7 linked regions of the Homo sapiens genome follow. The protein of the gene in region 4 purifies or fractionates together with the protein of the main gene of each other region. This does not show direct contact. Each region holds a gene or a part of one and is shown on either strand. Other genes may lie near its edges.

Region 1 (3,500 bases), on a different chromosome or scaffold from region 4:
GTGTCATATTGTCATAGAAAATAATAATTTCTGTAAAAAAAATCTGCACAAAATCTTATGATGGTACAAAACATGAAGCAATAATATACCAGTAAAATGAAAACATTTTACTACAGAAAGTTTTATAGATTTCCATAAAGAAAAAATATGTTATTTTACACCTTTAAAAATTACAAAACAATCTAAAACAATATAAACTGAACATTTTGTAACACTGCCTTTACAAATTAATAACTTTATAAACATATAATTTTTAAATATATTTATCAGTGCAAGATACTTTAAATTTTAAAGTTGCAGTATCATTTTTCCTTGGCTGAGGACAACTTTAAGTCTGTTGCCTTTAAAAACAACAAACGAGTGTTTCTTAGTGCTTTCCTTCTGGTAGGATTATATCAACTAAATGAATGTCTCTGGGGACAAAAAACTATTCTTCTTTCATGGTGATCAATATTTTCCTGGAAACAAAAGGCATTCTCAATCCAATTTAACTAAGATGAATGGACTGTCTCGTCTATGATGCAAATGTGACTCCCAACAAATGTCTTTGAGTGAGACGTCTAGCAATGTGGGAAGGAAGATCTAAAAAATCTCATGTCCAACATGGCATGATAAAAATCCACCAAAACCAACCAAAGCTTCTTTGGGTTAATTCATAGGCTGCCTGGTAAGATATTTGCTTCCCTGTGCTGTTAGAGGCTTAGATGTTGCCAGCCCTAAGGCAGGCTTATTCTTTGTGAGCCGCTGGAAGTTTCTAGAAGCATTCATTTAAGTCTATTTTTTCAAGGTTGCTGTTATGAATTTTTAAAACATTTGTTTGACTTTATGTGTTTTTCCCCCTCTTATCTTAAAATACTTGACCCCCAGGCATCAGGATTTATAGTTTCATTCTTAAATTAACTGTTCTTCCTTCCACTTCCCTTGTGTGACTCAGTAGCAAAATAAGAAAGTTCTCTTGGGTCATTTTTGCATATTTGGATAGAAAAATCTCATGCTTTTGGATTTGGAAGATTTTATCCAGTTCTTCCTTTGGGTCTCACTTGAAAGCCAATTTGTATTATTTCTTTCCTCAACTTATCACTATTTCTACTAAATGCCAACATTTCTATCAAAGGTCATTTTGAATAGAATAGATAAGGAAAAAAGATACTGTCACTTTAACCAGTTAACAAGAAAACCAAAGTTAGACTTTGGAGGGCAAAGTTAGGAATTTCCCTTATTTATTTATTTTTAAACATAAAGTCTAGTAAAATCGTTTGCCATTCCCAGCAGGTTAAAGCTGCAAGTTTCTTTCCTGGACAATGGCAAATCCTCCAATTCTAAGAGAGAAAAAAGACAGAGAGATAGGAGAGAGAAAGAGAAGAGAGTTTACATTTGAAAATACATTCCATATGAAAGAACAATAAGAGAGAATATTGTAGCTTTATACAAAAGGGTCAAGAAACATGAAATTGAACTACAGAAAAAGCAGAACAATTAAGCCACGTTGCCAAATCTTCAGAGCCCTTGCCTGCCCGGAGGGGCTGGCATCTCACACGAAAATAAACTTTCTTCTTAGTCAGTGGGCCACCAGAGTTTGATTAAAGAGCAGGGCTTTCACCAGCAAGAAGCAGAGTGGGTCGTTAATGTAACACAATGAACCAGTACAAACAAAAAGGCACTTGAGAGGACATAGACTAGCCAGTGCCAAGGATTTGTGTTTTTGTTGTTGCGGTTGTCAGCAGTATACCCAGTGGCCAGCCGTGTTCAGGGATGGCACCGTTTTCTGTATGGAGTTCACAAGCACGAGGTTTAGTACAACACCGGAAAAACAGCAAGAAAACTGGACAGTATTGCTTCGTAAACAGAGCTGACACACTACACCAGTACTGAGGCTACAGTACTTTAAAAAGAAAACAGCCTAATCCTTCTTTGCCTATGCACGACGCGGGCAATTATACACAAGTACAACTTCAGGAGTCCACTGAAATGCGGTGATTCTAGTATATTCTGGGCACTGGGTTTCAGGTAGCATGTCCATCCAAAGGGCCACACGGAATACGCTTGGTGCCAGCATCTTGGATTTCGCTCAGTTTCCAAAAAGAATCCACAAAGGGGAGAGGAGAGAGAGAGAGAGGGGCAGGAGGGGTCGAAATGAATGATTATGTCAATCATACTTGGTCTCAACACCAGCATCTGATTATTCAAATGAAACCAACAGGAAAAAAGCTGACTGCACATGAGTCCGATGGTGAACACAGCTCCTTGTCCATGTCTGTCGGCCATACTCATTGAAGCTCCTGAGAAAAGCCTGGCTCAGTGGTCATCAACACACTTCCCAGCCTGTATAGTGAAAGATCAACAGCTCCCCAGCTCACTCCCGTCCTTCCACTTCCGTCCTTTGACTGTCTTTTCATCTCTGTCTGCCTTCATGCCTCCGAATAAGTACTCTGTGTATTCAGTTTGTCTTTTTTCAACTTCACACCATCCACAAGTTCAAAGTTATAGTTCTCCAGGGCAGACAAGTTTCTTTCTGACATCCCATTATGCCAACAGGCACAGTACAGCACGACCCCACAGACAGCCCCCAGGAGGACCCCCAGGGCACTCATGGCTATGATGGTGATGAGGATGGGGTCTAAGGTCTTCAACACATTGCCTGGCTTCCTGGAGATGTTCTTGTCACCTTCTCCTTCACCTTCGTATCCTGGCGTGCTCCCTATGGAAAAAAACAATATTGTCTCCGTGAGCACCGCCAACAGACCAGATGAAAGCAGACAGAAAAATAGAAAGGAACGAAACAGGAGCAAATCACACACCCCAGTTTTGCCTGTCATATCTGACTCATTGTTGGGAACAGAAGTGTGGGAGGTGGTAGAGGGGAGTGGGCGCTGGGGCTTCTGACAGACTGCTTAGCACGTGGAAACAACCCATTCTGGATCAACTGGGAGGTTCCTTGCTCATCTAACTCAGATTTCATGCAGCCCCATCTGTCCTAGATTGTAATCTGTGTTTACAGTCCTTGGCTAGATAGGTGATCATTAAGTTTTGCAAAATGCTTAGTCACACATTAGTCTAGCAAGGGGATTTTACCATTCCCAGTGCATGTACCTAACCCCAAAACAGGCACAAGAAAAACCTTCATGGCTGCCCTTCTACGTGGTGCTGTTTCCAGGATCTGGCATGGTTTATGCATGTGTTTGTTCTCCCATATGGAAAATCTTCAAGTGAAACGAATTTTGCCCAAAGTCTACAGTAGTTTCAGTAAAGAAGGAGTGATTTTTTAGAACAAGAGAATGCTTGCTGCTGACATGTAAACAGAGTGTGGCTCAAATCGAGAAACCATGTCTGTCATGCCAAATAGAAGACATTTACTAATAATCAGCATCTTTGCAGCCCTGGTAGTTTAACTGGAGACAGTTGCACTGCTCTGCAGCTCAGTCACTGGGGACTTGTTTTCTTTGGAGTGGAACAGGAGAAATTGTTAACATGGGAGCTTTGAGCCTAATTACCTGGTACTA
Region 2 (3,500 bases), on a different chromosome or scaffold from region 4:
TGTTCCTACTCATTCTTCAGGTATGTTCACCCATGTCATAATTTCAAATGCCATTTTTATGCCGACACTCCCAAAGGTGTTATCTCTAGTCCAGTCCTCTAGATGTGTATATTCAACCACATAGGCAATCAATATATCCACTTAGAAAGCTCATAAACACCTCAAAATCAACACGTTCAAAACTGAGTTAATGATCTTCGCCCACTAAACAGACTCCTCCCTCCAGCTCAGTAAATGACAACCCTATTCATTAAGCTGCTCTTATTAAAACCCTGGAAATCATCACTACCTTTTCCTTACTCCCCACATTCAATTAACCTCCAAGCCTGTAATTTCTGCCTCCTAAGTATCTCTGAAATCCACCCATTTCTCCACATCATGATGGCCCCCACATAGCCTAGACACCACTGTCTCTCACACCACTGCAACAGTCTCCTAATTCATCTCCCCACATATCTTCTTCCCCTACCCTCCCCAGCCCCTACCCTCTCCATTTTCTGTCACATAGCCAGCATAGCCTTTTAAAGTACAAATCTGATTATGTCATTCCACAGAATTAAACCTTTCACTAACGTCATACTGCTTTAAAATCAAAGTCTAAAATCCTTAACATACCCTACAAGGCCCACATGACCTGGCACCTGTGTACTTCCTTAGGCTCAGACCACGGGTTTCCTTCTTGCTCACTGTGCTGTGTTCTAGACCTCAGATACACCACAAACTCCTTCCCATCTCAGTCTTCATGCCTGCTATTTCTTTACATGTATACCTTCCCTCCCCTGCCTGTGTTCTCTCAAATTGTAGGTGTCTGCTTTAATCACTGACCATTCTACCTACCCCCCAGTCATACTCAAGATCAGCACTCTTGTCATATGCATTGGTAGCATCTGGGTTTTTTAATCAGCAACACTTATCACACATGAATTAAATAATTATTTGTATAATGAGATGCTTAATGTCTGTCTTCAGACTACAAGCTCTGCTCATTCATGCTATATCCCTAGTAGCTACCACAACCTGTACATAATAGGTACTCAATAATTTTTTTGAATGAATGCAGAAGAAATATTACATTTTCTGATCTCTAATGAAAGACACAGATTATTACACTATGTTCTGGCTTTCTCCCTATAGTCCTCAGAATTCATTATTTAATAATCTACAGTAAAAGTATATTGAATACTCACCAAATACATAACCCAAATGACTAGCACTTCACAAAGATACACAGATACATAGATAGATAGAGATAGATAGGTAGATGGATGGATCTATAGATCTAAATTTTAAACACTATCTAAATTTTAAACAAACCAAGTAGAATAGGACAGAGCCTACCAATTCAGAATCTGAGGGGGCAAAAGCATCCTCAGGACCATTCCGATAATGCTGAATCACAATGAAACTATGTCCCTATCAGTTTAAACTAAAAGGAGAAAGTATGACTCTAAGGAAGAGGGAATCCCTCAGTTCTATCATTCAGGTTTCAGAAATCACTGTATTTTTCACCTTGAGATAATGAAACTATATGCGATCCCTCTCCCAGAAATTCTAAAAGGAAGTGACAAGAACCTAGGATTCTTATCAGGGAATTCTATTATAGTTAAACTAATTATATTGCTGTACCACATAAATAGCTTACTAGTTTCTGGCTTTGATTCTTTTTTTCTCCTTATTATACTCCTCTCCTCTCTCAATCAATCCATGTCCATTCACACTAAAGAAGGGTAGAAAGAATGCCTTGAGATTCAGCTTGTAGGTTTCCCCTGATGAACCAGCCTTGCTCTGTTCCGTCATTTTTTTTTTCTTTTTTTGAGATGGAGTCTTGCTCTGTCACCCAGGCTGGAGTGCAGTGGTGCAAACTTGGTTCACTGAAACCTCAGCCTCCCAGGCTCAAGTGATTCTCCCACCTCAGCCTCCTGAGTAGCTGGGATTACAGGCACATGCCACTACTCCTGGCTAATTTTTTATATTTTTAGTAGAGACGGGGTTTTGCCATGTTGGCTAGGCTGGTCTCAAACTCCTGGCCTCAAGCGATCCACCTGCCTCGGCTTCCCAAAGTGCTGGGATTACAGGCATGAGCCACTGCATCTGGCTCTGTTCCCTCCTTTAACTTGGCATTCCTTTCACTCTTTTGTTCTAAATTGCTATGGTACAATTTATAACACTCACTGATATTTTCCTATTTCCCCATATAAGGTATTTTATTTCCCCTAACTATACTGATAGTTTGAGGCCTGAATCTTACCCTTCTTTTCCTTCTTATCCTTTTACCAGCCCAATATTCAAGAATAGTAGGTGCTTGCTAAAAACTGATTTCAATAAAAGACTGAGTCTGAGTCAAACAAAATACATTACACTGGATAGGCTGGGCGTGGTGGCTCACGCCTGTAATCCCAGCACTCTGGGAGGCCGAGCCGGGTGGACCACCTGAGGTCAGGAGTTTGAGACCAGCCTGGCCAACATAGTGAAACCCTGTCTCTACTAAAAATACAAAAATTAGCCAGGCGTGGTGGTGGGCGCCTGTAATCCCAGCTACTTGGGAGGCTGAGGCAGGAGAATCGCTTGAACCTGGGAGGCGAAGGTTGCAGTGAGCCGAGATCCCGCCATTGCACTCCAGCCTGGGTAACAAGAGGGAAACTCCGTCTCAAAAAAAAAAAAAAAGGGCTGGGTGTGGTGGCTCACACCTGTAATCCCAGCACTTTGGGAGGTCGAGGTGTGCAGATCACGAGGTCAGGAGATTGAGACCATCCTGGCTAACACGGTGAAACCCCGTCTTTACTAAAAATATAAAAAATCAGCCGGGCGTGGTGGCGGGCGCCTGTAGTCCCAGCTGCTTGGGAGGCTAAGGCAGGAGAATGGCATGAACCTGGGAGGTGGAGCTTGCAGTGAGCTGAGATTATGCCACTGCACTCCAGCCTGGGCAACAGAGCAAGACTCTGTCTCAAAAAAAAAAGAAAAAGAAAAGAAAATATACTACACTGGATAAATAAACCTCCCCAAGAGACAACTAATTCCTTCAAGTTCACTCATGACACATTTTTCCATAGGTTTTTGTTTTGTTTTGTTTTGGTTTTTTTTTGCAACGGAGTCTTACTCTGTCCCCCAGGTTGGAGAGTGGTGGCACTATCTTGGCTCACTGCAACCTCCACCTCCCGGGTTCAAGCAATTCTCCTGCCTCAGCCTCCTGAGTAGCTGCGCACCACCACACCCGGCTAATTTTTTTTTTTTTTTTTTTTTTTTGTATTTTTAGTAGAGGCAGGGTTTCACCATGTTGGCCAGGCTGGTCTCGAACTCCTGGCCTCAGGTGATCTGCCTGCCTTGGCCTCCCAAAGTGCTGGGATTACAGACACGAGCCACCACACCTGGCCTCATAAGTTCATTATTATACATGATGGTTCAACTCCCAAACCAGTCCATATAGCCTTTTAAATCTATAAAGTACCTCAGAACTGTAGATGTCACACTTTTGAGCTAATGAATCATATCCAGCTCTACTG
Region 3 (3,500 bases), on a different chromosome or scaffold from region 4:
GGTTCCTGCTCTCCCAGGCAGGAAGTGGGAGGGCTCTGAAGAGGGAAAAACAAGCCCATCTGGGCCAAGGCTGTTTTCCTTCCACCCTCCAGTGAAATACTTGCTTCCCTGCAGGCCCAGATGCAAATGTCTTGGCGAGAAAGTCCCTTTTGGAAAAAATTAAAACCCAACAGTAACCTTTCCCACAGTGAAACAGTTCTTGTCCCAGGAACACATGCAAATGATGGTTCTCACACAAGTTACTTCCCCGCTCAGGGCCTTAGTCTCCTCCTCTATAAAATGGGACAAGGCACATGGGGTCATTCTGAGAATGCAAAGAGATGAAGCAAACTGTGGTGAGACACGTGGCAGACGGCGTCTCCTCCCAGCATCTGCATGAACGGTTACCCAGCCAGATGCCCACTCAGCGCTCTGTGGGCACTGCCTCATCTAAGCCTCACCCCTGTGGGCAGCACAACAGTTATCCCCTCCCAGCAGACAAGAAAACCAAGGCACAGAGAGTTGTCCATGACTTGTCACATGGACCTTCTCCTCACCCGCCAACCAAGAAGTGCTCATCCTCCTCAGCTCTGCTTGGCCTCCAGACCTGGTCTTCCCAGAGGACATTTCTGACCTCAACACTCAGGCCCAAAAAACATTCTGTAGCCCGCCCTCCCTCTCCTAAGACTCATCTCCACTCCTCTCTGCGAGGCCTCCCTGCCCAGTGAAGCCCTCAGAGTCCTCCCAAAGACTCCTCTGTAAAACAGGACAAGACCCCCTGTCCAGCCCAGCTCAAGGGTCACTCTGAGAATCCAAAGAGATGAAGCAAAATGTGGTGGTCAGGCCACCACAGTCAGGCAGCCTAGCTCAGACTGGCCCTTGATGGAACCAGCTCCTCCAGCCAGCTGGTCTGACCCCTTGGGCGTGCATGTGGTCTTTTCCAGGGACTGGGCCCTTCCCACCCCTTAGTTCCTGGGCTAACATGGCACATCGCCAGAGGCAGAGATGGCTGCCAGCTCCTTCACAGGCCAACCCTCTAGCTGGGGAAGGTGACATCGTAAGTCTACAGTGTCTCTACGGTGTCTCTTCCTCACCTCCACCAGCCCAGGGGCCTAGCTTGGAGCTGAACAACTCATGCTGACCGAGGGCTGGGACCCCTCAGAGCCTAGCAGGACACTTCTCAGACGGCCTGCCTGGCCCCGCGTGCCTGTTGTGGCCTAGTGCTTCTGACAGTGTGCCATGGTAGCCCAGAAACTAAGGGGTGGGAGGGGCCCAGCCTCTGGAAAAGACCACATGCACACCCTAGGGGTCAGACCAGCTGGCTGGAGGAGTTGGTTCCATAGCCATCTGTTCTAGGCAGGCTGAGTACCCCCAGGGGCAAAGGAGCCTCCTCTGACAAGACGGATTCCAGAGGTTCTCATCTCATCTCATCTCATCTCATCTCATCTCATCTCATCTCATCTCATCTCCCCAACTACCCCTGAGCAATGCAAGGCTCCCAGGTGACTCTCCCTCCCTCCGTGGGCAGGGAGCCCTAGAGTCTCCCTCCATTCGTGGGGGGGGGGTGCCTAGAGTCTCCCTCCCTCCGTGGGTGGGGGACCCTAGAGTAGGCCCCGTGCTTTGGCACCTCTCATCTCACAGGATCCTCCCCACTGCCCTCTGGGGTACCCACAGAGGAGGCATCTCGGAGGCTCAGAGAGCTGGTCCTTTACCCAGTGTCACACAGAATAGCCAACACCTGATCTAGGTCTCTGGATGGCAAGACCACAGGGCCTGACAATGAAACCCTGCTTCTCAGTCACTCGAACCCCAAACTCTTCACACAGCCAGGCCCCTGCCACCCTCTCCACCCACAGCGCAGCCCTTCCCGGGCTTCCTCATCTGCTGTAGCCATGCTTGCGACCTGCCTCAGGGACTTTGAACTCATGGCTCTCTCTGCCTGGGATGCTCTGGACAAGTCTTTATGGCTGGCTCCTTCTCTATTTGAGCTTCAGCTGAAATGTCAGCTCCTCATAAAGGCTTTCCCTGACCACATCATCGAAAGTGGAAACGCCCATCCCTCCCCACTTGCTCCCTAATTTTCTCCTTAGCACCTATCACAAGTGATATTTATTTACTGCTCTGTCTTCCAAGGCCTGGACTAAACCTGTCTTGTTCATAGTTGCTTCCCACACCTATCACGGTATCACAGTGCCTGGCATTCAGTAGGCATCAAATAACTATTTGTTGACTTAATGAACAAACCAACCAACCAGAGAGCACGGCTGGTTAAGACTGAATGCTCCTGCCTTCCAACAAGAAGTCAATTCAAACCCATTCACATCTAAAAGTTCTCTCTGGGAAAGGTTGTTTTGTTGTTGTTTTTTTTTTTTTTTTTTTTGTCTGTTTTGTTTTCCCCCCATCAACCTCTTCTGACCAGACTTACCCAGAAAACATCTTTCCCCTGTGTGGAGCCAGTTGGTACAGAAATTTCATTATCAGTCCCTTATCAGGTTGACCGTGAGCCCCACCCCAGGGTGGCACTGTGAGTCACCTGGGAAGAAAGGCCTCCGGGCAGGAGGGCAGGTGGTTATTCCTGCTTCTCCAGGAACCAACCCAAAGGCAGCAAGGTCCAGTCCTACGACATAAAGCAATTCCTCTATTAAAGCGGGGAACGAGACCATGTACAAAGTCTAGGTTAAGAGCGAAGGACACTTCTCAGGGCCTTAGTTTGCTCATCTATAAAATGAAGGTGTTGGAAGGTTCTCCAAACCCCTGGCAGGGCTGCAGCCCTGATTCTCTGGATTTTAAAGGCTCTGTGGCCAGACTGGGGGAGGGGAGGACCTCTCTGTGCCCGAGGCCTGAGCCCAGTCTGATGCTATGAGATCATCTCTGACAGCCCGTTAGGCACGGCTGGCCACTTCTCCAATATGAAGGCTGCCCCACTTTCAGCTTCACTATTTGAGTTTCACTATTTGGAATGCTTACCTAGAGCCAGAAAATGAACTTTGCTCGACAAATCAAACACAATAAGAAAGATAATTAAAGAAATAAAATGTCTACATATATGTACAAGATGTCCAGATGGATGTTTACCAACATATAACAGTGGCTGAATCCCAGTGGTAGAATCAAAGGGGACTTTTGCTGTTTTCGTTGTACTTTCCCAAATGGCTTGAATCTTTTAAGCTATGCGCATGTATGATTTTCACAAAAATAATAAAGCTCTTCTCGAAAGTAAAAATCTCCTGGAAACTGTCTCCAGAGAAGTGCTTTCTTTTTGGCCTGGCTTCACCTAGTGCTTCACTGGGAGGCCAGGGACGTGGCCTCTTTCAGAAAGGTTATCTTCTACCCTCACCCTGAGACCAGGGAGAAACATACATGGCGCCTGGAAAGGTCATGGGGGCCCGAGGAAGAAACTGGAGTCAGGCAGCCTGGATCTGGTCTTGGCCTGTCACTGACTTGCTGTGGGCTTTCAGGCAACTCACTTCTCTTCAGGCCTCTGATTTCTTATCGGTAAATTTAAAAGGCTGCACTAGAGG
Region 4 (3,187 bases):
TGCCACTGCACTCCAGCCTGGGCAACAGAGTGAGACTCTGTCTCAAAAAAAGGAAAGAATGTTGCCAAGTTGGAGGCAGGACCAGGCCTCTTGGCTCCTGGTTTATTCTTCTTCCCACCCTATTTACTAGCACATATTATTGAAAGCTGCCCAACAAAACTCTATACTGATGGAAATGTTCTGGAGCTGCAGCATCCAGTATGGTAGCCATTAGTCATGTGTGGCGGTTAGGCACGTGGAATATGGCTGGTTCACTTGAGGCACAGAGTTTTAAATGTAATTTAAATTAATTTCAATCTGAATAGCCTCACGGAGCCAGCAGCTCCCATATATTGTACAAAGTGAATCTAGGCTTTTACCTTCATGAGTTGCTGGACTAGGAATCAGAGTTTTTCAGGAGATTTTATTTGACCAGGTTAAATTTTATAAAAGACAGTTCCATGGCCTTATGAACTAGATAAAAGTAAATAGGAAAAGTTCTCTATCACTGAACGAAGGAAATTATAGTAGAAAGTGGAATTATACTTTTATACTCATTTAGAGTGACCTAACCTGAGGAGCATTGGGTCCCTACCATTTAAGGGTTTTATGGTGCTCAGAGTTTGGGAAAATGACAGCAATCATTCTTTCATGATGGTGTATTCGAATTTGTATTGTGATTCACCCCACAGATCCAAAGGCCTCAAGTAAATGGCATTTGTTCCATAAAATTTACTGTAAAAGGCAGAAAAATACCCATAGTATATCTATATTTTATTTGGATTTGTGCTTTTATTTAGAGAATTTATTTTCTAACCTTTGTCTCAATAAACTGCCGAAGTCAATCTTTTGCCTCTTTTGGAGTTCATATTCTCCTGCAGGAAGAAACTACCCAAAGCTACAATCAGCAATGTATATACGTTTTCCCTATTAGAATGATTTTTGTCCACAAGATTTCTGTTACAAAGAGAAAAATCAATGAGCTGACTAGTGTCATCCATATAAATATTTGACCAGAGATGTATGGTGAAGGGTGTATTGAATATGACAATGAAACAATGCAGTGGCTGTTCATTGTTGGTTGACTGAAAGTGGTCTGTTTGTAAACAAGCCACTAGTAGAAGGCAGATTAAAATTTGAGATGTTCTGTTGTTTGGCTCTTATACACAAAACTGTAAAATTGACTAAATACCTTGCTTCCTTGTAGTGTGGTTTCTTCAAGAGAAATAAGAAAGATCATTATGATGCCACATATCACAAGGCTGAGATCCATGCTCAGCCATCTGATAAAGAGAGGCTTACTTCTGATGCATAGTATTGATCTACTTCTGTAATTGGTAATTGATCAATGTTTTTTAATTGCTAGCTGTGGGACCCGCTATGGTTGTGGTGGCTAACTTTAAGAACAACAGCTTGCTATGTGTGTCCCATTAACAGATGTTTCCAAATGTCCACACTGGCTTGCCTTGCTTGGATTTGTTTTATTTTATTTCACTTGAAAGCTCAGTTTTTGTTTTTTTTAATGCACAGTCTTTCGTTGCAGGTGAGTTATTTTATGTTCTTGTTAAATATCTACCACAGCAATGAAGAAAATTTGCAATATTTGTACACACAAAAAGAGACTTTTAGCCCTCCATAGTAGCCCAGTTTGCAATGTGTTATTAATTCGGTATGTAGCATTCCACTAGGGAATTCAAAGATGCATAAGAAATCATTCTAGATTTCTTGTCCATTTTGGAATTTTCCACAGATAGAAGCTGTGTCGACCGCCTAATTAACCTGTTGCATGTTGGAAATGTTGTGTTTCTCTTGGTGAGGCTTCCTCACTGTCATCTTTTTGTTCTCTTTGCTATAAAGTGATGGGGAAGGCTTGGAATGCTTTTTACTGTTGCTCAGGAATCGTTTTATGCTAGCTAAGCATGCAACTTCCATTTCCTGCATGTCTCCTACAGGTCAAAGACCATTACAACAAACTGATTATCAGCATGATGGGCTTTTATGGCCAACTTCAGAAGATGATCCCTTACCAAAGTTACCTTCCATCTACAAAATTCTAGTACAAAAAATACCCTGAACAGTTTTTATTGCAATATGTTGTGATGGAGTTTGACCATATTTCATGTATCCAGAGATTTTATCCAACCTTGGATCTCAGTTGATTTTAAATTCAAGTTTCTCTTATTTGGAAATACATGGAAATAGGAATTGCTAGTGATCCCTTTCACCATTTACGTGGGCATGAGAGGACAGAATTACTCCTGTAATCCTTTCCATGGCACTATCACAGTGAATCACAACATTGCCATTCAGCTTTACATATTACCCTTAATTTCCCTCTTTGTTTAAATGGGGTAGACAGCAGTCATATTTTGTAATAGATAGGTACTTTGGCTTTTTTTTCTTTTTTTTTGCACAGAATAATAAATGAATCCATGTAGAAATGACCTGGAACAAAACATCTTGGTCCATTTTGCCTATTGATTTAGTGATAACTATACATATAATTTTATCTTGCTCCATGGCATTTTTATAACATAACATCATTCAACATAAATGTCCTGTTACTATTGACGTCACACAATAAACACATTAACAGTTCTATCAATATCCTCATTCTTCTAAACTGCATTTTAAAGTTGAAAACACCTTTTTTTAAAAAAAGTAAATATATTTCATTTAAAAATTTAATCTCAATTCAAATTTTTTCAGATATATTCTCAGTAAAAATATACTTTGGATCAGATTGACTATTTAAATGAATTTTATATATATATATAAACACACACATTAACAGTTTAAAGGTAAATGTATTTTTGCAAAAGAAGAGAAATTAGGGAGTGCTCTGAAATTCAGTGTAGTGATGCACTTCTGAAGTCCTATGCAGCACATGATTTTTATTGCAGGAAACAGTTACTATGTGATTAATGAAATAGCTTAATTAGAAGCACAATAGCAAATCCAGGCAACATAAATGACCTCCTGGCTAATGAGAGAAGTGATATGTGTACTAGAGCCTCAGAGGAGAGAAAAAGATTATAAAGTTGACCTGTTGGAACACTGGCATATTCAAATAGTAATTTGTAAAATACTTGTGACATGATTTGCATTTTATTAGTGGGAAAGGGGCATGAAATAATCTTTGGTTTATGCCATTTAAAAATTATTCTTAATCTAATCTGATAATCAGATATTTTACATATCATATTGT
Region 5 (3,500 bases), about 69 Mb from region 4:
ACTGTGTTAGCCAGGATGGTCTCGATCTCCTGACCTCATGACCCGCCCGCCTCAGCCTCCCAAGGTGCTGGGATTACAGGTGTGAGCCACTGTGCCCAGCCAGAGATATGTGGAATTTTTAAACAAATTTTAGAAACCCTGAAGCTTTGGAAAGCATGGAGTCTGTTGGCTAACCTTCAGTAACAACCCCAAGAAAGATGACTGCTGTCAAATTTGGTTCCCTCTGGAGCTTAGAAACTTATTAAAAAGCTTCTCTCACTTTGCCTCTCGATTCCCCTCCCCCAAATCTTAACTTCCTGAATACTGTGTCCTCTGTTTCCCTTTTGACTGGAAATGTTCCCAGCTACTTTGGAAGAAATGAGATCCCTGCATCCCCAGTGTTATTTGGCTTGGTTAACCAAGGGATAGTAGCAGTAAGGTTCAAGAGCCTTTAATTTCAGCAAAACCTAAGAATTGAGAGCAAGTGTGAGTGTGGAGGAGTAGAACTTCCTAAAGGGAAAGAGAAGGGTCAGATGTAATACAGACAGTTTTGGCAGAAGGAGTTGGCATCTCGTTTTCAAATAATACAGAGATAAGTATCTGATTATGAAAGTAAAAAAAAAGGTAATCATTAAAGAAAATAACAATGAGAACTTCCAAATTAAGAGAAAAATATGGAGGAAACAGCAACTTCATCAAACCAGCAAAAATATGGAAAAGGAACAAGAAGAAACAAAATCAGAAGTAATCCTAAATCAAGACAATGGGGACAAAATTCAAGAATATCAGTTATCAGTATAAATGTGAAATAACCAAATTCTCTGCTTAAAGGAGAAGACAGATTGGCCTGAAAAACCAAGGGAAAAAAAAAACAAAAACAACAAACCGTCCAGCTATAACGTATATGCTTAAAGCAAAAGGAACAAAGAGAGGCTGAAAATAAAGGGACAAGGTAAAAAATAGCAGGCTAGTGCAAACATGGAGGAGAGACAACACTACTATCAGCCAAGGTGGGAATTAAAGTAAAAATAAGCAGAATAACAGGGATAACAAGCTATAATGATAAAAGAAACAATTTATAGGGAAGATGTAATATTCATAAGCCTGTATATTCAAATAATCACTGTAGATAAACACATAAAGCAAGGACTAGGAAAAATACAAACTTAAAAAAAAAAATTCAAGTGAGAAACTTTAATAGAGTTCTCTGAGAACCGGACAGATTCAGTAAACACAGTATGTGCAAGGACAGAGAAGAACTGAGTAATACAACAAATACATCTGATTTAGCAGACATAGAGAAATTTGAATCAATACCTTAAAAAATGTTTGAAGTCATGTATCTACCATAAAAAAAAGCCTAAACAAAATTTGAAAAACATTTTTACAGTCAATGTTCTCAAATAATTATCTGCTTAAATTGGGTGGAAAAAGATGAAAAGTAACTCCCAGTAATTTGTTACATTACTGGATATCCCCAGGATCAAGGAGGGTAACAAAAGCAAAGCCATAAGCAATCTCTAGAAAGCAATGGAAGGAAGATAAAAGCAAAACTTAGGAGATAAAACAGGAAATCAATAAAGAGAAAAAATGAATTATGAGGGGGGGAAAAAGAAGGGTAAACAAATCCAAAAGCTGGTTTTCTTTTTGTTTTTTGAGATGGAGTTTTGCTCTTGTTGCCCAGGCTGGAGTGCACTGGCGCGATCTCAGCTCACTACAACCTCTGCCTCCTGGATTCATGCAATTCTCCTGCCTCAGCCTCCGGAATAGCTGAGATTATAGGTGCCCGCCACCACGCCCAGCTAATTTTAGTATTTTTAGTAGAGATGGGGTCTCACCATGCTGGCCAGGTGAAACTTCCTGACCTCAGGTGATCCTCCCACCCTGGTTTCCCAAAGTGCTGGGATTACCGGCCTGAGCCACCGTGCTTGGCCGCAAAAGCTGGTTTTCTAAAACAAATTCCTCACAAGCCCAATTCAGGAAAAAATAGCAAATATAGAAAAGTAGCTAAAATAATGACAGAGAAGACTACATGTAGCAAAATGGCCCCAAATCTGAAAATGCAGAAAAAATGGGCACTGTAAATTACCAATACAGAACCAAAAACTGGAAAATCTGACTAAAACAAGTATCACTAAGCAGCTGATTAAAGACATACCAATGAAAAGGACCAAGACTTGACGTTAGAGTTGAACTCCATCTAACCTTGGACAAGACCAAAGTCATTTAACTATTCCAAGCCTCTACAGAGAAAAGGGAAAACAATTTGTTTTATGAAGACAGCACAGTTTTAATAACAAACCCAGATGGAGACATAAGAAAGGAACAAAGGAATGAATGAACGCCATAGGCCAATCTCACTCACAAATATAAATGCAAAAATCCTGAATACAATATTTGCTAGCAATTAGATTCCAGGAATGTATCAAAAGCATCTACCAATATTAATCCAACAACACAGTATAGGGGAAAAAAAATCATGCATTAATAGATGCTGATGAGGCATATGAAATTCAGCAACCAATCATAATGAAAACAGTAAGAAAACTGCTGGCAGAGTGTGGTGGCTCACGCCTGTAATACCAGCACTTTGGGAAGCTGAGGCAGGAGGAGCGCTTGAGCTCAGGAGTTCAAGACCAGTCTGGACAACATGGTGAAACACTGTCTCTACAAAAAATACAAAAAAATTAGCTGGGTGTGGTGGCGGGCACCCGTAATCCCAGCTAAGTGGGAGACTGAGGTGGGAGGATCCCTTGAGCCCAGGAGGTGAAGGCTGTAGTGAGCCGAGATGGTGCTGCTGCACTCCAGCCTGGGTGACAGAGTGAGACTGTCTCAAAAAAAGAAAAAAAGGAAAACTGCTTAAATCTAATTCAGGATATTTCTGAAAACCAAAGGCAAATACTGTTTTCTAAACAATAGAAAATTAAATCTATTTAAATTACAACCGATAATTCGGCAGGAATGCCCTTCCATAATTATTTTTAAGCACTTACATGAAAACTTTTACATGAAGACCTATACAAAAAGCAAACAAAACCCCCATGTGCTATCCATTATCCAGCTTCAACAATTAGCAACTGAAGGTCAATAATGTTTCATCTATTTCCACAATCATCAATGCCACTGCCTGGATGATTATGAAGCAAATACGAGATGTAACATTTCATTTATATTCCACTACACATATCTAAAAATAAGGGCTCCTAAAAATGACAAACCATTACACATAGCTAGTTCTTTAATGCAATCAAATATCCAATCAGTATTCATATTCTCTATTCTCTCATTTTTTTCATGTGAATCAAGATCCAAGTAAGATCCAGATATTGCAATTTCACCATGATTATTTAATACTACCTTGGTGAGTTTACTGAATATAATGAAACAAGAAAATCAAAAGAAAACACTTTTTTGCTGATTGGACTGAATACACAGAAAATACAAATACTCGGCTGGGTGCGGTAGCTCATGCCTGTAATCCCAGCATTTTGGGAGGCCAAGACGGGCATATCACGAGGTCA
Region 6 (3,500 bases), on a different chromosome or scaffold from region 4:
AACAATGAAATCCATTAGAAGATAACTGAAAGACCTATAGTCTAATGATTTGGCCTTAGAAAAACTGAAAGTGAAGAAATTCAGATATTGGCTCCTGTTTATCTTAAGTCAGCGATAATTCTACTAGTTTTTAAAGCCCTTAAACATATCATGGGAAATTCAAAGGGCTATAAATAAAAATATATATGAATAGATATATAAATTAGAACATATATATATTACACACATATATTCTTAATTTGATATTATCCGTATTTTGGAAGAGGGAACTGTGATGCAAATAACTAGTCTGTGGATCATTCAAGCATCTTTTAAAAAGCAGTAATAATGTAGCACATAATTTGTGGAAAATTGTTCATAATAGATGCTGAATATTGGACATTCCTTTTTGTATGTGACTACACATAACCACTATACACCACAGCAACTCTACTGCAATGTTGGAATCCTCTATGTCATTTGCTAATGCACTGTGTAGCCTTTATTGTCACTCATGTTAAAGAATTTGATGAAGGCCGGGCATGGCGGCTCATGCCTGTAATCCCAGCACTTTGGGAGACCAAGGCGGGCGGGTCATGAGGTCAGCAGATCAAGACCATCCTGGCTAACAGGGTGAAACCCCATCTCTACTAAAAATGCAAAAATTAGCTGGGCGTGGTGGTGCATGCCTGTAATCCCAGCTACTCAGGAGGCTGAGGCAGGAGAATCATTTGAACCAGGGAAGCGGAGGTTGCAGTGAGCCGAGATTGCGCCATTGCACCACAACTTGGGCAACAAGAGCAAAACTCTGTCTCAAAAAAAAAAAAAAAAAAAAAAAAAAGAATTTAATGAAAAAATGTAATCAAGTTTCTTGACTTTGGTACCCTAAATGATGATTTCAGGCTAAGCCAAGATAATATCAGAAGGTCCCATTGAGAGAATGAAAATGATAATGCCAGATGCTGGTTAGCTTGCAAACCAAAAATCATCTGTGGTATCGCACTTAATTGACTACGCCAGCACTTCCCAAAACACTGTTTCTCAGATACTTCAGATATTTACAGGAAGATGTTGATACTGTATTAGGTATTGGAGAATATTCTCATGGCCAAATTCATTTGGCAACAATAAGCTAACCTGGTCATTTAGCTTGGACTTTCTCAAAGCTGAAGTGTATTGAGAATTTTTAAGAAGGGGAATTATGATACACACATTATTCAATATTGTTTAATCATAAAATTCTCATACAAATATTACTCAATTACTCTATAAACTTTTTTTTTTTTTTGAGATGAAGTCTTGCTTTGTCATCCAGGCTGTAGTGCAGTGGCACGATCTCGGCTCACTGCAACCTCTGCCTCTCAGTTTCAAGGAATTCTCCTGCCTCAGCCTCCCAAGTAGCTGGGATTACACGCGCCTATCACCAAGCCCAGTTAATTTTGTATTGTTAGTAGAGATGGGGTTTCACATGTCCATAAACTTTCAACATCTTTGTGGCTTCTGTAACTACACTCAGGGGATTTTCTTCTTCCTATAAATCATTTCTAAACCTCCTTTGCTGGTTTCTGCTCTTTCCTGCAGTAAACTCATATGTTTCTGTGACTGAAACCAGCAGCTTTCTGCGGATGACTTTAAATTGAAATCATTCCAGAATTCCACACTGGAATGTTTATTAGTGTCTGTCTGGAAAGAAAGTTTCACTGGAGTGGTCAACAGCACCTCAATCTCATGCAACTCATTCACCTAAAAAACACTTCTAGAGAGTCTATGTTGACCTGGGCTCACAGCTAGTTGCTGGAGCTCTAAAAATCAGCATAATAATAAAACTACCTGAATAAATTTTAGCACAGCAAAATTAAAACCGTGCAATATCTGGCTTCCTCCTATCTCCCATGTTACAGCACTTTTCCAAAAATTTATTCCTCTACTGGACTGCTTTCTTTCTTTTGAATATTTTATGTATTTTTCCATGTGTCAACTGTTGTCAGACTGCATTCTCTATATTTTCTATATTTTTCCACATATTTAAATTTCTTTATTTCTTTTTTATTTATTTTTGTCTTTTTGTTTTTTTGTTTAGATAGACTCTTGGCTCTGTTGCCAGGCTGGAGTGCAATGGTGCAATCTTGGCTCACTGCAACCTCTGCCTCCCGGGTTCAAGCAATTCTCCTGCATCAGCCTCCCGAGTAGCTGGGATTTCAGGTGTGCACCACCAACATCAGCTAATTTTTGTATTTTTAGTAGAGATGGGGTTTCACCATGTTGGCCAGGCTGGTCTTGAACTCCTGACCTCAGGCGATCCACCCGCCTCGGCCTCCCAAAGTGCTGGGATTAAATTTCTTCATGGTCAATTCACATGCAAAAAAATGGCTCTCCCATTTGAATTAATAATGTCTTCCCATGAGCTTCCATTTTTCTGAATTTTTATTAAATTATACATTTTATTCTTTATTATATATCTTGAAATATAGATAGTTTGATCTATCTGTCTTCCCTACCAGACAGACAGTGCTTAGGGGCAGGAATTCTATTATTATTTTTGTATCACCATAGTGTCTAGCACAATGCTTCTTTCAGAGAAAACAGAGGATAAATGTATACTGGATTAGCAATTTTGATGGAGAGAGTAAATATTCCACTATACTCAGATCATATGTATAATATAGTGATATAGAGACTGCATTATGTAAATATGTGTTTAGAAATAAACTTGTCTAAACCTGTTAAACTTGCCAACTTTTTTTTTTGTTTATACTAATTTGTATGAAATTGTTATATTTGCTTACTCTAAATGACAGCTATCTACTCCTTGTAAGTTACAGTTGATTTAACCTTAACTTTATAGTATGGAACTATAGATGTGTGAAATTCAGATTTCTTTTTAATGCCATTATAATTTATAAGTGGGCAATGATTATTTTCTAAGAGGTAGAACCACATATATAGCCAACTCATTATAATCATTGACTTTAAGTATAAAAATAATAAAATATTTTCTACTATTTTAGACACTCTTCAATCACATTCACTCTGGAAATAGATAACTTTGCCTCATAGTAGAAAAAAATGAGTGACAACTAAACAATGATGTGGCTATAATAAAGAAAATATCATGAAACTAAAGCAACACCCAACTTCTATTTACTTTTGAGTACACATTCTTCAATTTTGTGCCAAAATATTTTTCCTGATTTTTCCCTAAAATAATTTAAGTGACGAAATTTATTAAGGAATGAAAAAAACAAAAAGTATTGCCATGGGTATTCAAATCACCCAGTTTTATTTAGGAAGGCATTTTATTCATGACTTTTGTCAAATGGAAAACAAAATGGCCTAATCAAAAAAAATGACATCAGCATATTTGATTCAATCTTGGAATTAGCGTGATCCATTAGCTACTGCATCAGATTCAGAATGTCTGATGCCAAAGTATTAAATAGAATAGTATCCCTCAAGAAACATACTACACATGTTGGGAGTTAGAAAATAACAAATTTTCTCTCTCATTCCATAAAGAACTG
Region 7 (3,500 bases), on a different chromosome or scaffold from region 4:
TAATGCCTCTGAGAATACAGAATTCTCCCAAGGGAGTGTTAATGTGGGACAGGAACTGGCGACAGGAGGCGCACTGTGCGGCACCCGCTGGCCAGTGCAAGGCCACCAGGATGAGCCCCTCAAGCTCTGAGTGGGCACTCTGCTGCCATGTGGCTCTCCTCAGAAGGGAGAGGAGGTTTGAGCTGGTGGGAAGGGCAGCTGGCGGGGCAGCACAGTCCTTAGTGACTTTGTCTCCTCTTTCAGACCAAGAGAAACAGCTGAGGTGGTCCCCTGGAGGAAGCCCACAGGGAAGTTCTGCTTTTCCACTCCAAGACCATAGCTCCTTTTAAGAGCCCCACAGCCTCCACCATAAGAAGGAGCATCCCCACTGAGCTCATCAGCACCCACTCGGCTCTGCTTCTGAGGGGTAAGGGCGAGCCTTGGGGAGTACATCTGGAGACTGCAGGGCCAGAGAACAGTTGAGGAGTCCCAGAAGGGTTCTGCAGCTAGGAGCACACAGAGATGCGTGGAGTAACCTCTCATGTTTGTCATTCTAACACTAGAGAGTTACCTTTTTTTTTTTTTTTTAAGAATTGTGGTCTCACTCTGTCACCAGGATGGAGGGCAGTGGCATGATCATGGCTCACTGCAGCCTCAAACTCCTGGGCTCAAGTGATCCTGTTTCAGCCTCCAGAGTAGATGGGACCACGGGTGTGTGCCACCACACATGGCTAATTTTTTAATTTTTTTGTAGAGATGGGGTCTCACTATGTTGCTCAGGCTGGTCTTTAACTCCTGGGCTCAAGGGATCCTCCCACCTCAGCCTGCCAAAGTGCTGGGATTACAGGTGTGAACTACTATGCCTGGCTTAAGAATTGCATTTTAAGTCATTCTATATACCAGGCACGATTTGACACAAAATATAATCAAACCTGTGGCAAAAGTGAGTGACTTACAAATAGATTTTATATTTTATTCTTTTTTATAATAAAATGCAAACTGCATGACTATAGTCATGATGACATTCAGGAGTCTGGGCAGCTGTGGTCTTCCTACACAGCAGTCCAGGCCTATCTTGTCTCAAACTCTCCTCCTACTCCTAATAGTTCCCCTAGAACTAAGCCAAAAAGAAAAGGGTTACTAACCCCAAACCAATGCAGAGAGCTCTCATATGAGCCTGCCCTTCTCATGAAGAAAGGCTAACAGATGATACAGGCAAGTTGCCTGGGTCTCATATTCCACTCCATTGCCTGCTAGCAGTGCAAGCTTGGGAAAGTCACTTACACCTCATGTGCCTTGATTTCTTCCCCTGAAAAGGGAGGGTAATGGTGGTATCTGCCAGTAGGAATGTGCCCAACTTAAATGAGCCAACACACATAAAGGCTTAGAATAGGAACCAGCACACACTGCTAAATTAATGCCAGCAATTATTACTCCTACTAGGAAGATTTGAGCACCATAACCCCCTACAGGAGCTACAAATACGAGTAACCAGGTAAGAAGAGGGTTCAACCAAAAAATCACTCTGCTCGTCCCATGCACACTCTCGGCATGATGTACAGAGTAGGCCAATAGTTCGCTGGCATTCACTTACTGCGGGATCTTTAGTGCAGCAGGAGAATGGAACGCCACATCGCTCTCGACTTGCATTGGAATCTGTGCAATTGAAGTAAATATTTAGGTTCCAATCATCAGCTCCAAAAGCCCCACAGCACTGCCACTAGAGCAAACAGGAAAGAATTAGAACATCCCAACTTGGAGGCAAGCAGTCACCTACACTCACACCCGCCGAACGACACCAGCTTCTGCCAGCTCTGACCTTCTTTTCTGTCCTAGACTTTATTTTTAAGCCAAACTGAACCTAAATGGCCCATATAAAATCTTCCAAATTAATTAGGGCTGAAGGTTTGTAGGGATGTGTTGGCACGTGATTTAAACAACTGATGAGACCTGTGGTGTTAGGTGGAAGAAGGGCAGAGCAGCTGTACAGCAGGGCTCAGTTAGAACAAGATCTGTTTGGCTTGGGCACGTCATTCTAGAAGGAGAAACAAGAACATTCTAGAAGGGTAAATAAGACACTAACGACAGTGGTAGTGACTGAAGGAGGCAACTGGGGTTATGGGTGGGCTAACTATAGCTTACTTTTTCAAAGTTTTGATCTCTACATTCTAATAGTTTTTTTAAAGATCTGTTTTGTTTTATGGAGCGCAGGGAGACCCCCTGAAACTATTGCTATGGAATAAAAGATGAAATGCTCCTGATTACTGGAAATACAAAATTGCATGCAGGATTGTGTAAAGACAATGCCAGGTTGGACTGCCAGAATGAGCCAACAGTGCGTGATGTGCTTCCCCCTGCAGAGAGCCTATGAATGGACGTGCAGTCAGGGAGGTTTCACATCACCAAGATTCCTATCCCAGAAAAGCAGATGTTCATAGCTCTGGGAATAGAATGCGACCTTTGTGGAGAGCCTATAAACAGACACATGAGGGGCACCTGTCCATATGTATAAGACAGGGCTATAAATGCCCTCATCTTGCCACGGCTCTTCTAGACCTCTTTAGGGTTAAGGCATACTCCCTTCTGAGAATTTCTGGTCTAACTGGTTGTGTAGCTTCACGTCCTGTTTCTATGGATTGTTTGTAACTGGCTTTTGCTGCAACTGTTACTGCTGACTAATATCTTGCTAATCATAGGTTGTGGAAAGACTGTGTTTCTGTTTTAAGGCTCTGTTAGAAATTACTGAAGCACACACTATATTGTAAATTCTTATCCCTGTATACTGTACTTTTGCATACAGATGTTATGTTAAAGAATTACTTCATCCCCATGTGACCATCTCACCTCATAATCAAATGACCTAAATCCCTCACTAACCTACCCCCACCCTCACTAAACTTAATAATAAATTCTGGTATATCCAGTGCATTGTTGGCACTGCGTGACCAGAAGGCGGTGACCCCCCTGGACCCAGCTTTCACTATCTTGTGTGTGTCTATTATTTCTCGACCTGCCGATCCGCCTGGGAACAGAGAGATCCCTGTTGCATTGCAGGCTGCTGGCCAGATCCCGCAATAATGGAGGTATAACTGACATACAATAAATTGCACATTTTAAAGTATACAATTTGATAAATTTTGACATCTGTATACATCACAAAAATGTCACCACAATCAATGGATATATAGTTGATATATCCATTACCACCAAAAATTTTAGAGGTTAACTTTTCATCATATTTGTTTCTACTCTGAGTTTGTTTAAAAACAAGTGCATGTGTTTTACATTTTCAACTTTAAAAAGTCAGTCTTCCAATTAAAATATATTAAAACAAGCGGTTAAATTCAGTGGTTCTTAAATGGGGCCGGAGTCAAAGGCTACTACACAAGCCCCTTCCTCACTTCCCTGGGATGCACTTTCTCTACTTCTCTGAGTTAAATAAATATCAAGTCTCAACCATTTGAAGACCTTCCGGACCAACAGCTACTTCTAAACATTACATTCCATGATGCAAAAAGAAA

The links.
Region 1: the proteins of ITGA6 (region 4) and NRP1 purify together in Homo sapiens (affinity purification with western blotting, with the first as the bait; one study listed by BioGRID). This does not show direct contact.
Region 2: the proteins of ITGA6 (region 4) and OSTM1 fractionate together in Homo sapiens (co-fractionation; one large-scale study listed by BioGRID). This does not show direct contact.
Region 3: the proteins of ITGA6 (region 4) and TSPAN15 purify together in Homo sapiens (co-immunoprecipitation; one large-scale study listed by IntAct). This does not show direct contact.
Region 5: the proteins of ITGA6 (region 4) and SEPTIN2 fractionate together in Homo sapiens (co-fractionation; one large-scale study listed by BioGRID). This does not show direct contact.
Region 6: the proteins of ITGA6 (region 4) and TRDN purify together in Homo sapiens (co-immunoprecipitation; one large-scale study listed by IntAct). This does not show direct contact.
Region 7: the proteins of ITGA6 (region 4) and TSPAN5 purify together in Homo sapiens (co-immunoprecipitation; one large-scale study listed by IntAct). This does not show direct contact.

What each region holds. Positions count from the first base shown.
Region 1 is NC_000010.11:33,177,668-33,181,167, forward strand, and holds part of NRP1 (neuropilin-1 isoform a precursor), read right to left. Parts: intron 2,699-3,500; coding exon 2,409-2,698; 3' UTR 1-2,408. UniProt on the Homo sapiens protein: Cell-surface receptor involved in the development of the cardiovascular system, in angiogenesis, in the formation of certain neuronal circuits and in organogenesis outside the nervous system. Mediates the chemorepulsant activity of semaphorins.
Region 2 is NC_000006.12:108,068,242-108,071,741, forward strand, and holds part of OSTM1 (osteopetrosis-associated transmembrane protein 1 precursor), read right to left. Parts: intron 1-3,500. UniProt on the Homo sapiens protein: Required for osteoclast and melanocyte maturation and function.
Region 3 is NC_000010.11:69,457,965-69,461,464, reverse strand, and holds part of TSPAN15 (tetraspanin-15), read right to left. Parts: intron 1-3,500. UniProt on the Homo sapiens protein: Part of TspanC8 subgroup, composed of 6 members that interact with the transmembrane metalloprotease ADAM10.
Region 4 is NC_000002.12:172,500,586-172,503,772, forward strand, and holds part of ITGA6 (integrin alpha-6 isoform b preproprotein), read left to right. Parts: intron 1-1,186; coding exon 1,187-1,294; 3' UTR 1,295-1,316; intron 1,317-2,722; exon of another isoform or gene 2,723-3,187. UniProt on the Homo sapiens protein: Integrin alpha-6/beta-1 (ITGA6:ITGB1) is a receptor for laminin on platelets. Integrin alpha-6/beta-1 (ITGA6:ITGB1) is present in oocytes and is involved in sperm-egg fusion.
Region 5 is NC_000002.12:241,318,925-241,322,424, reverse strand, and holds part of SEPTIN2 (septin-2), read right to left. Parts: intron 2,223-3,500; exon of another isoform or gene 2,138-2,222; intron 1-2,137.
Region 6 is NC_000006.12:123,504,451-123,507,950, forward strand, and holds part of TRDN (triadin), read right to left. Parts: intron 1-3,500. UniProt on the Homo sapiens protein: Contributes to the regulation of lumenal Ca2+ release via the sarcoplasmic reticulum calcium release channels RYR1 and RYR2, a key step in triggering skeletal and heart muscle contraction.
Region 7 is NC_000004.12:98,477,112-98,480,611, forward strand, and holds part of TSPAN5 (tetraspanin-5), read right to left. Parts: intron 1,700-3,500; coding exon 1,574-1,699; intron 1-1,573. UniProt on the Homo sapiens protein: Part of TspanC8 subgroup, composed of 6 members that interact with the transmembrane metalloprotease ADAM10.